Regions from separate parts of the Homo sapiens genome. Here region 1 is linked to region 2. Evidence: fine-mapped expression QTL. A gene starts in region 2. The other region holds a variant in brackets. All regions are shown on one strand. Distances are from middle to middle. Region 1 has its middle 35 kb from the start of TRERNA1. Region 2 holds the start of UBE2V1 (ubiquitin conjugating enzyme E2 V1).

Region 1 (5,369 bases), 37 kb after region 2:
TAGCCGGGCGTGGTGGCGGGCACCTGTAGTCCCAGCTACGCCGGAGGCTGAGGCAGGAGAATGACGTGAACCCGGGAGGTGGAGCTTGCAGTGAGCCAAGATCGTGCCACTGCACTCCAGCCTGGGCGACAGAGTGAGACTCCGTCTCAAAAAATAAATAAATAATAAAATGCTGCTGGAAAACCCCAGAACAAATTCGTGGTTAAATCTAAAGGTGGCCTCTTCTGTGCTGAGTTACCCCCAAGAGGAAAACAAATCCTGTCTCAAATCCTAGAGTGTGCACTTTACCTGGCTTCCCTGGGTCACACCTCCGGTCCCCAGCCCCTGCCAGGTTTATATACCAGAGGGGATGCGGGCTGGGTGGACCTGGGCTTAAGGCCTGTGAAACAACACTCAAAACCCTCTGAGACAGTTGTTTGGATCTGTGATCTTGTGGGCACTGTGTCCCACGTTTGTGTAATTTGCTCTTCCTTGGTGGTGGGTTTACAGATGGTCTAAAGTTTATGGACAGAGTTTAAGCCTAGGGCACACAGGAAGTGCTTGTCTGAGGTTCAGATGTTGCCACGTTTTTGTTTTTGTTTTTTTTCCGAGACGGAATCTCTCTCTGTCGCCCAAGTTGGAGTGCAGTGGAGTGGTCTTGGCTCACTGCAACCTCCACCTCTTGGATTCAAGCAATTCTGCCTCAGCTTTCTGAGTAGCTGGGACTACAGGCATGCGCCACCACGCCAAACTAATTTTTTGTATTTTTAGTAGAGACAGGGTTTTACCATGTTGGCCAGGCTGGTCTTGAACTCCTGACCTCAGATGATCTGCCCCCCTCAGCCTCCCAAAGTGCCGTGAGCCACCGCGCCTGGCCAGATGTTGCCACTTTTGCCAGGTGGTTTCCCTGGGTCACACCTCTGGTCTCCAGCCCCTGCCAGGTTTGTGTACCGGAGGGGATGCATCCACTGGTAATTTTCACTGTGTGGAAACTTGTGGTGTGGGGAAACATCTGTCGTTACCTGACAAAGGTCGGGGAGACAGCAGGTGTAGAAAGCACCCCTTCTGGCTGACCAACAGCAAGCCAGCCATGGGGCCCCACTGCCCTGGATCTCTGACTGACTCTGGTCTTGGGGCAAGAGCCAGTTCCTTGGACTGCATCTCCACTGGAGAAAGTTCTCCGGCCCTCTGGGTGGGAGCACTGTTGGCTGTACTGCACCTTTAGCTGTGGTGTTGCATAACGATGTGGATGGCGTCACATAAACGGAGCGGCCCCTGCCTCTGTGCCCCTTTCCACCCTGCCTGTGGATCCCTGCTTGGCCTTTTTTTTTAGACGGAGTTTCAATCTTGTTGCCCAGGCTGGAGTACAATGGCATGATCTCGGCTCACTGCAACCTCTGCGTCCTGGGTTCAAGATATTCTCCTGCCTCAGCCTCCCGAGTAGCTGAGATTACAGGCATGCACCACCATGCCTGGCTAATTTTGTATTTTTATTAGAGACGGGGTTTCTCCATGTTGGTCAGGCTGGTCTCGAACTCCCAACCTTAGGTGATCCGCCCGCCTCGGCCTCCCAAAGTGCTGGGATTGCAGGCATGAGCCACCGCACCCGGCCCCTGCCTGGCCTCTTGCACCTCCCCTCAGAGAACCTTAGGGAGCCCAGGGACAGTCACATTCCCTCTCTTGGCCTGTCCCTTCTTGACGTCACTCCTTCATCACGGAGCCTCATGACAAAGTTCAAGATACAGCATTAGGGATTTCCTTACTTGGCAGAGGAGGAAATTCCTTTAAGAAGAGGCAGCTTGGCTGGGCTCAGTGGCTCACGCCTGTAATCCCAGCACTTTGGGAGGCCAAGGCAGGCAGATCACCTGAGGTCGGGAGTTTGAGACCAGCCTGACCAACACGGAGAAATCCCATCTCTACTAAAAATACAAAATTAGCTGGGTGTGGTGGCACATGCCTGTAATCCCAGCTACTCAGGAGGCTGAGGCAGGAGAATCACTTGAACCTGGGAGGTGGAGGTTGTGGCGAGCCGAGATCACGCCATTGTACTCTAGTCTGGGCAACAAGAGTGAAACTCAGTCTCAAAAAAAAAAAAAAAAAAAGGCAGCTTGTGAAAGCTTCATTCTTTCCAGTTTGCAAGAAACAAGCTGCTGGGGTGGGTGGATTGTACAGAGCTCTGAGCTCCAGAAGATAACAGATCAACCTCAAAGACTTCCTTGTGAGACCTGGGCAAGGTCACCTGCTAGATGCAGTCAGCTGTCACACACGGGCCAAGGTGACCTTGGGAGAGAGGAGACCTTAGGCTAGAGCCACCTCATTGCTGCTGGTGGCCCTGTCACTGTGAGAAGAAGACACGGGCCACATCCTTGGGGTTCTGATATGTGTCTGATGTTATGCAGCTGGGTGGGGACAGGTGAGTGTGAAGGTGTTACTAAGTACTGGGCACATGGGCTGAGTGAATGCCAGATCTTTCTGATTTTCCAAGGAAGCTGTGAAGGCAGATTTGTACGTGAAGTCTCCCTACATTTATGTGTCAATTAACAGAGTTGGCCAGAGGCAGTGGCTCATGCCTATAATCTTAGCACTTTCGGAGGCCAAGGCTGGCAGATCCGTTGAGCCAACAAGTTTGAGACCAGGCTGGGCAACATGGTGAAACCCCGTCTACCAAAAATATAAAAATTAGCCGGGCATGGTGGTGCACGCCTGTAATCCCAGCTACTCGGTAGGCTGAGGCAGGAGAATTGCTTGAACCAGGGATGCAGAAGCTGCAGTGAGCTGGGATCACACCACTGCACTCCAGCCTGGGTGACAGAGTGAGATTCTGTCTAAACAAAGAAAAGAAAAACAAACAAAAAAAGAGGCCGGGTGCAGTGGTTCACGTCTGTCATCCCAGCACTTTAGGAGGCCGAGGCGGGCAGATCACCTGAGTTCAGGAGTTCGAGACCAGTCTGACCAATATGATGAAACTCCGTCTCTACTAAAAATACAAAAATTAGCCAGGCATGGTGGCAGACGCCTGTAATCCCAGCTACTCGGGAGGCTGAGGCAGGAGAATCGCTTGAACCTGGGAGATGGAGGCTGCAGTGAACTGGGCTTGCACCACCGCACTCCAGCCTGGGTGACACAGTGAGACTCCGTCTCAAAAAGAAAATAAAGGGAATAGAGTGCAGGGCAAAGTCTCACCTCTGACCC[C/T]GTTCTCCCAAGGCAAGCACCAGTGTGTGAGCCTCTGAGATGGCACAGGCAGCACGCGAGCAAACGCAAGTGCAGCCAGCACCACTCCGCATTCTTTCCCCCTCCCCTCATGCACTTCCCCCACTTTTTTACGCAAATGGGAATGTGATCTCCACTTAGCTCCTCCCCGGGATATTCTTCCCAGTGCCCTGCAGAGCAGCCTTGGGGATCCGCTCCGTAGTTAAGCGCAGCACACCCAGCACATGAAGGGCCACCACCACGGTGGCCAGGCCTGGACTGCTGGGCCTGAGGTGGTCTCTGCTGCTCTGCTGCCCGCTGGCCTCAGGGCATGTGTGTGCATTTGCATACCTCTGTAGAACACAGTTCTAGGAGCAGGTTTCTCCATCCAAGGATACAGGCATATTTTATTTTATTTTATTTATTTTAATTAATTAATTTATTTATTTATTTTATATTTTATTTTATTTTATTATTTTATTTTATTTATTTTATTTTTGAGACAGAGTCTCACTCTGTTGCCCAGACTGGAGTGCAATGGCACTATCCTGGCTCACTGCAACCTACGCCTCCTGGGTTCAAGTGATTCTCCTGCCTCAGCCTCCCGAGTAGCTGGGATTACAGGCGCCTGCCACCATGCCCGGCTAATTTTTGTATTTTTAGTAGAGATGGAGTTTCATCATGTTGGTCAGACTGGTCTCGAATTCCTGAACTCAGGCGATCCGCCTGCCTTGGACTCCTAAAGTGCTGGGATGACAGACGTGAACCACTGCAGCTGGCCTCTTTTTTTTTTCTTTTTCTTTTCTTTTTTTAGATAGAATCTCACTCTGTCACCCAGGCTGGAGTGCAGTGCTGCGATCCCAGCTCACTGCAGCTTCTGCATCCCTGGTTCAAGCGATTCTCCTGCATCAGCCTACCGAGTAGCTGGGGATTACAGGCGTGCACCACCACGCCCGGCTAATTTTTGTATTTTTGGTAGACGGGGTTTCACCATGTTGGCCAGGCTGGTCTCGAACTCCTGACCTCAAATGATCCACCCGCCTTGGACTCCCATGCCCAGTGTATTTTAACTATCTCATTCATTGCAGTAGTTATTCCTTTGTCCCTCTTGCAGGTGGGCGCCTCATCTGGCTTCTTCACTGCCATGAACCCAGTGTTAAAAATAGTGTTGAAGGCTGGGCACAGTGGCTCACGCCTGTAATCCCAGCATTTTGGGAGGCCAAGGTGGGTGGATCACCTGAGATCAGGAGTTCGAGACCAGCCTGGCCAACATGGTGAAACCCCATCTCTACTAACAATACAAAAATTAGCTGGGCGTAGTGGCACGTGCTTGTAATCCCAGCAACTCGGGAGGCTGAGACAGGAGAATCACTTGAACCTGGGTAGCGGAGGTTGCAGTGAGCCAAGATCAAGCCATTGTACCAGCCTGCGTGACAGAGCCAGACTCTGTCTCAAAATATAATAATAATAGGCCTGGCGTGGTGGCTTACGCCTATAATCCCAGCACTTTGGGAGGCAGAGGCGGGTGCATCACTTGAGGTCAGGAGTTCAAGACCAGCCTGATCATCATGGTGAAACCCTGTCTCTACTAAAAATACAAAAAATTAGCTGGGTGTGGTGGTAGGTGCCTGTAATCCCAGCTACTCAGGAGGCTGAGGCAGGAGAATGACTTGGACACAGGAGGCGGATGTTGCAGTGAACCGAGATCGCGCCATTGCACTCCAGCCTGGGAGACAAGAGCAAAACTCTGTCTCAAAATAATAATAATAATAATAATAATAAATAAATAAGTAAATAAAATAAAAAATGGTGTCTAGGCCGGGCACGGTGGCTTAAGTCCGTAATCCCAACACTTTGGGAGGTGAGGTGGGAGGATCACTGAAGCCAGGAGTTCATGACCAGCCTGGCCAACATAGTGAAACCCCGTCTCTACTAAAAATACAAAAATTAGCCAGGCGTGGTGGTGCACACCTGTAATACCAGCTACTCCGGAGGCTGAGGCAGGAGAATCACTTGAACTCGGGAGGCGGAGGTTGCATGGAGCCAAGATCACACCATTGCACTCCAGCCTGGGTGACAGAGTGAGACCCTGTCTCAAAGAACAAAACAACAACAACAACAAACAGTGTCCAGCACAAAGTCTGACTGTGTAAACTGAATGAATGAATCACTCCTCAGGGCTGGGCCTGGCCTTCCTCTCT
Region 2 (5,369 bases):
AAGTCTCAGTTTTCTCATCTCACAAATGGAAATGGTAACAGCTACTTTGCAAGGTTCATTGAGGATTAGGTAATAATAGCAGCTAATACTTATATTGCACTTAGTGCCAAGCCCTCTTCTAAATTCTCTAGTTCTATTAACCATTTTAATCTTCCCCAAAATCCGATAAAACAAGACTCTTATCCCATCAGCTGAGTTTATCAGCTCAAGCGCAGAGCGGTGATCAGGCGCAGGCGCCGGAAGGAATCCTGCTCTGGGGACCGGCTGTGACGTCCAGGAATGGGGCAGAAACTCTTCGAGGGAGCGTGTGCGCGGGACGTACTACAACTCCCATCAGGCACTGCGCCAACGCTAGACTACAACAACCAGCATGCCTCGGGCTGTCCCGCCTAACCTCTTCCTGCGATGAGCTCGGCACGGGAATTATTATTGTCAATTTTACTTGCAAGAAGTTTCCTACAAGAGCCAAGGAATCCATGCGAGTAAACATTTACGGGCACCATAGATAAAAGGCTTGTGTTTTAATCCTCATCCTCTCCACCTGTTAGCTCTGAGTCTCAGTTTTCTCATCTCTAAAAATGGGGATATTCACAGGAGTTGCTGCATCGAGTTGTGAGGATTAAAAGTTGGATGTAACGGCTTGGTAATTATGAGCTCTTCTAGTGTCCCTTCCTCTTCCCTGTGCCCAAGGGGTTTTAGGAAAGCATTTTATCTCCACAGCAATCCTATGAGGTTGATACTACTATCCTCATAGAAGGGGAAACTGATGCCAGGAGAGGTTCAAGCGTCTTACCTGAAGTCACAAAGCAAACTGAGTGATGAAGGAAGACTTGAACCTAGAAAATTTCACTGCAAAGGTGAGTCCACCTTAGGAACCCAAATGCTTCCACTTGCTACTGATGCTTTACAGTGACCCCAAGTCCAGGGCAAGTATTTTCTGTGCTCCCCAAAGCAAACTTGTATCACGTGATACACGAAAAGTCAAGTTGCTTCACCTGTAGCCAGTGCTGGCACTTTGAGAGCTAATTATAGCTGAATTTGATGTGGTTGGAGGAATCGAGGAAGGCTTCCCTGAGGGGATGGTGCTGGATCTGAGAACTGAAGAGTGGGAACAGCACAGGCAAAGCCCCTGAAGTGGGAGAGGGCATGTGTTCCAGGGGGCTTGCAAAGGGCCAGTGTCGCCGCAGAGGTACAGAAAGTCTCAGAGGCGCAGGCTGTGCCAAGGCTATGGTGAGGCAAGTGGGGTACCTAGGGTGCAGATTTTTTTTTTTTTTTTGAGACTGAATCTCTCTCTGTTGCCCAGGCTGGAATGCAATGGTGCAATCTCAGCTCACTGCAACCTCTGCCTCCCGGGTTCGCTCGATTTTCCTGCCTCAGCCTCCCGAGTAGCTGGGATTACAGGTGTGTGCTACCACGCCCCGCTAATTTTTGTATTTTTAGTAGAGACGAGGTTTCACCATGTTGACCAGGCTGGTCTGGAACTCCTGACCTCAGGTGATCTGCCCACCTCGGCCTCCCAAAGTGCTGGGATTACAGGTGTGAGCCACCATGCCCTGCCCTAGGGTGCAGATTTTAAGGAGTCACTCACCTGCAGCGCTGTGCAAGTGCGGAGTCAGGACCTGAGTGAAAGCCCCGTTAAATCTGACCACCCCATCCTCGTCCCTGCCCTGGGTGCAGAGCCTGGTGCACAGGGTGTCCAGGCATCCTGCTTTGCCCTGGAGAGCCCTGGTTTCCACTTGTCCTGGTGAGATTATAATAAGTCCCCTTTTAATCTGATGTGTGTCCTCATTAGGTGATAATTCTATGGTCGCTCAACTTGTAAAGTTTGTATTTTATCCAGAGGGAATGGGGAGCCACTGAAGGCTTTAGCTGGAGGGTGTTTTGAGCAGATGTTGGTCTATATGGAGAATGGGCCATAGGGGAGAGAATGGAAGCTGCTGGGGTCTTCCAAGTGGGAGATAAAGGCAGCTTGCCCTGAGTGGAGAAGTGAACGGAGTGGAGAGATGCAGAGTAGGCACTGCTATCAGACAAAGGTGATGAATTGGATGTGCTGGGTGAGGGCTTCCAGCTTCCTTGTCCCTCTATGTTTAGAGTCCTGGTCCTTCTGCCAGTATTTTGCTCTGTGACCTTAAGCCAGTCCCTTCACCTCTCTCAGCCTCAGTGTCTACATCCATATAAGGGCTTCTCAGACAATTTATAATAAAGGAGGAGTACCTTCTTGGGTTTATTTATTTGCAAAAATATTTCCCAAGGGCCTTTGCACAAGCTGTTCCCTCTACCTCCTCATTGTTACGGTCTCTGCTGAAATATGACCACCTTAGGAGGCCCTTCCTGACCATCCTCTGCTGCTCTTGTCTTGGTTTATCTCTACCCTATCAGAATTATAGTTTCCTGTTTATTTACTTGCTGTCTACGACTAGAATGTAAGTCCCTGAAAGCAGGGATTTGCTTCTTCAGAGATGTCTATCCATCCCCAGCGCCTAGCACAGTGTCTGGTACATAGTAGGTGCTTAATGTTTGTTTGTTTGGTTGAATGAATGAATGAACGAATGAATGAATGAATGAATGAATGAATTGGGTAGATGGTTAGCAAATGCTTTCCCTGCCACCTTAATGCCCCTAAATCATTTAGCTGCACCCACTCCAAGCCTTCTCTGGCCGGGGAGCATCAATCCTAGGAGCCAGATCATCTGACCTGGAGGGTGATGATTCAAAAAATTTGAACCTGGAGGTTAAAATTCTGCCTGTCTCTGCCACTTAACAGCTGAGTTTAGATAAATCGCTTGATCTCTCTCGGCTGCATTTTTCACATTAATTCTGACCTTGCGGAGATGTGGTGAGGATCTAGATAGGAACTAGACAGGAAAAAGCCCCAAGCGAATTCGGCGCTTTTGTTTGAAGCTATATTTTCTTTTTCTTTCACAATCGCGCCTTCCCAAGCCTAGTCACCCCTGCCCTTCTCACTAAGCACATCACAACCTCCCTCGCACCCGATGTGTGGGGACTTGCAGGTTGCTGGGCCCTCGAGCACGCAGATATTTCCTTTCTCTAAAAGGGAAGGAAAAGAGCCTTCCAGGCCACGGGTCGTGCAGGTCTCCGGGGCGGGCGTCAGCGGCGGCGTATGTGCGTGCGCGCGCGCCTGCGCATCAGGGCCGGGGGACGGGTAAGGGGGGGGTGAAGAAGGGGCCGGCCTTCAAGCAAGAGCGACGCAAGATGGCAGCCACCACGGGCTCGGGTGAGCGGGGGCGCCGGGCCCGGCCGGCCGAGGGGGCATGGGCTTGGGCCGGGGGCCGGGGACCCTCAAAGCCTCCTGCAGCGGAGCCAGGGTCCCCGCGCCGCCTCTGTCTGCTGGGCTCCGCGGCAGCCACCGGCGCGGCCTGACCGGGGGAGGAGGAGCAGGCGGTGGCCGGAAGCACGGGCGGGGGGCTGAGGGGCCTGTGGGCGGCGCGGCGAGGCCCTGAGGCTCCCCCGGGAGGCGTGAGGGCCCTCTGTGCTGTCTGGGGGAGCCGGAGTGGGCGAGGAGCGAGCTCCGAGGCACTCCTGAGGATACCGGGGCTGGCGACTCTTAAGGGGCGATCTAGAGGTCCCCTAGAGGAGGCGCCCCACAGCGGATGGAAGTCCCATACTGGGTGCCAGGGGTGCGGCTGAGAGGGGCCTTGGGATGTCTGGAGGGGACATCAGAGAAGCCCTTCAGGCTGGATGGAAGAAACGGGATCCTGAGGGGGTGACTTGAGAGGATCCCCTATCGGTTGAGGGAACGGCTCCGGCGTTAGTTTTAGAGATGGGGTTAGCTGAGGAAATAGCTATGTTGACTAGAAAGGAGGAGCCTTGGAGCAGCTGCTTTTGGGGAGAATGAAGGGGGTCTCCGCATGATAAGTGAGAGGAGGGAAAAGGATTCAGATGCCAGAGGGACCTAATAGCGGTGATAGTGAAATGACCCCATCATTACCAGTCTCCTGTTCGAGGATACAGATGGATTGCTTCAAGTTAGGTTTCAGGGGACAAGGTCCGAGTGGGGCAGTTGGTGGAAGCCTCTGATATTGGATGAGGGAGAACAGATGAATTGGGAGCCCCGAGGATGTCTCTTTGGGAGTGGGGATTCAACTGAGGGAAGCCCCTGAAATGAGGGAGTGGAAAAGGTCGGGTTCCGGAGATGTTTCCTGTAAAGGAGAAAAGTCTCCTCTTTTTGAATTGAGTGAGGGAAGCATATCCTAGAAGTGTCTCTTCTGTGGAGACGCTCACTCTCATCGACTCCTTTAATAATTGGGACAGATATGTGGGTTCAGCTCAGAAGTTCCCCACTGGCTGATGGGAGTAGGGAGGTGAATAGATGAAATGGGAACTCTTGGGTGAGGCTGCACCCTCAGGTGCCTGGCAGTGAAGTTGGCCAAGGAGGTTCTCTCAGATGGGGTGAAAATGGGTTACCTCTCTGATGGAGGAAGCAAACAGGGCCACAGTGTTCCCCACTGTGGGGCTGCAGGGACACCAGCCTGAGTACAGCAATCATTGGCATATTTAAGGCCACAGCAGCGGCAGTGTTGGGAAGGAATTGGTGATCCATGGGAAATAGGGTGAGGGGAATTCTTTATAAATGTTGCTACTCTGCGGTCTCAAGGAGCCATACTTGCCTGATGGTTGGGGTGGGAATAAAAGAAATTGAATGTGGGGGATCTGACTGAAGTGACCCACCACAAGCTGCTGCCTTTTGAGTTTAAAACAGTGGGGTCTTCTTGCAGAATAGCGGAGACCATGAATCCTTTTACTCGATTTTGGTTTCAGCTGGAACAGTGCTGAGTCAATTCATTTACCATGACGCTGCCCCAGGCACTCCCAGAAGAGAGATTCTGAGTCAGGCCAGACTGCTGGGTAAAACTTCTCACCAGAATAACACTCCTACCGGGTCGTAATAAACGAAGGGGCCCAGTGTGCTGGTGGTAGCCAGCAATAAGGTGCTGTTGCAGCTCAGCCCTGCTTGCAGTCACTCGGTTGGCTACCTACAATCTGGGTTAACAGCTGCCCGGTTCTAACTTCTCCAGACCCTGACAGTTAAAAAGTGAGTGCTTCATAAATGGCTATGGTGATCAGATAAAATGTCAGCTGCTGTCTAGTGGAATACAAGAGCACTTGGCATGGTTTAGATAACATAGGACAGGCTTTGAGGTGCCCTAAAATGGACTTCCCAAAATTCTTTTGTCTGTTTATTCAACAGATATTTACTGAGGGCCTATTATGTCCCATCGTGGATAGCAAACAAAATGGACATAGTCTGTATCCTTCGGGAGCTTCCATTCAAGTCAGGGAGAGAAGGCTGTTAAGGAGTAAATAAGACAATTTCAGATAGCAGTAAGTGCTATGGAGGAAATTGTGTG

The links.
Region 1: its variant is fine-mapped to the expression of UBE2V1 in whole blood (INTERVAL, PIP above 0.99).

Annotation. Positions count from the first base shown.
Region 1 is chr20:50,073,721-50,079,089 of GRCh38, reverse strand. No RefSeq gene overlaps it. Among named protein-coding and RNA genes, the nearest start is that of TRERNA1, 35 kb to the right of the region's middle. RefSeq lists an enhancer at 5,015-5,369. The variant C/T (reference allele first, on the strand shown) is at 3,172.
Region 2 is chr20:50,110,973-50,116,341 of GRCh38, reverse strand. It overlaps UBE2V1 (ubiquitin conjugating enzyme E2 V1), which reads left to right and starts at 3,192. Exons shown (of 4, transcript NM_001032288.3): 1 at 3,192-3,235. The coding sequence starts at 3,214. All of the region lies in intron 5 of PEDS1-UBE2V1 (PEDS1-UBE2V1 readthrough), which reads left to right. RefSeq lists silencers at 265-421, 3,125-3,664 and enhancers at 2,273-2,840, 2,845-2,954.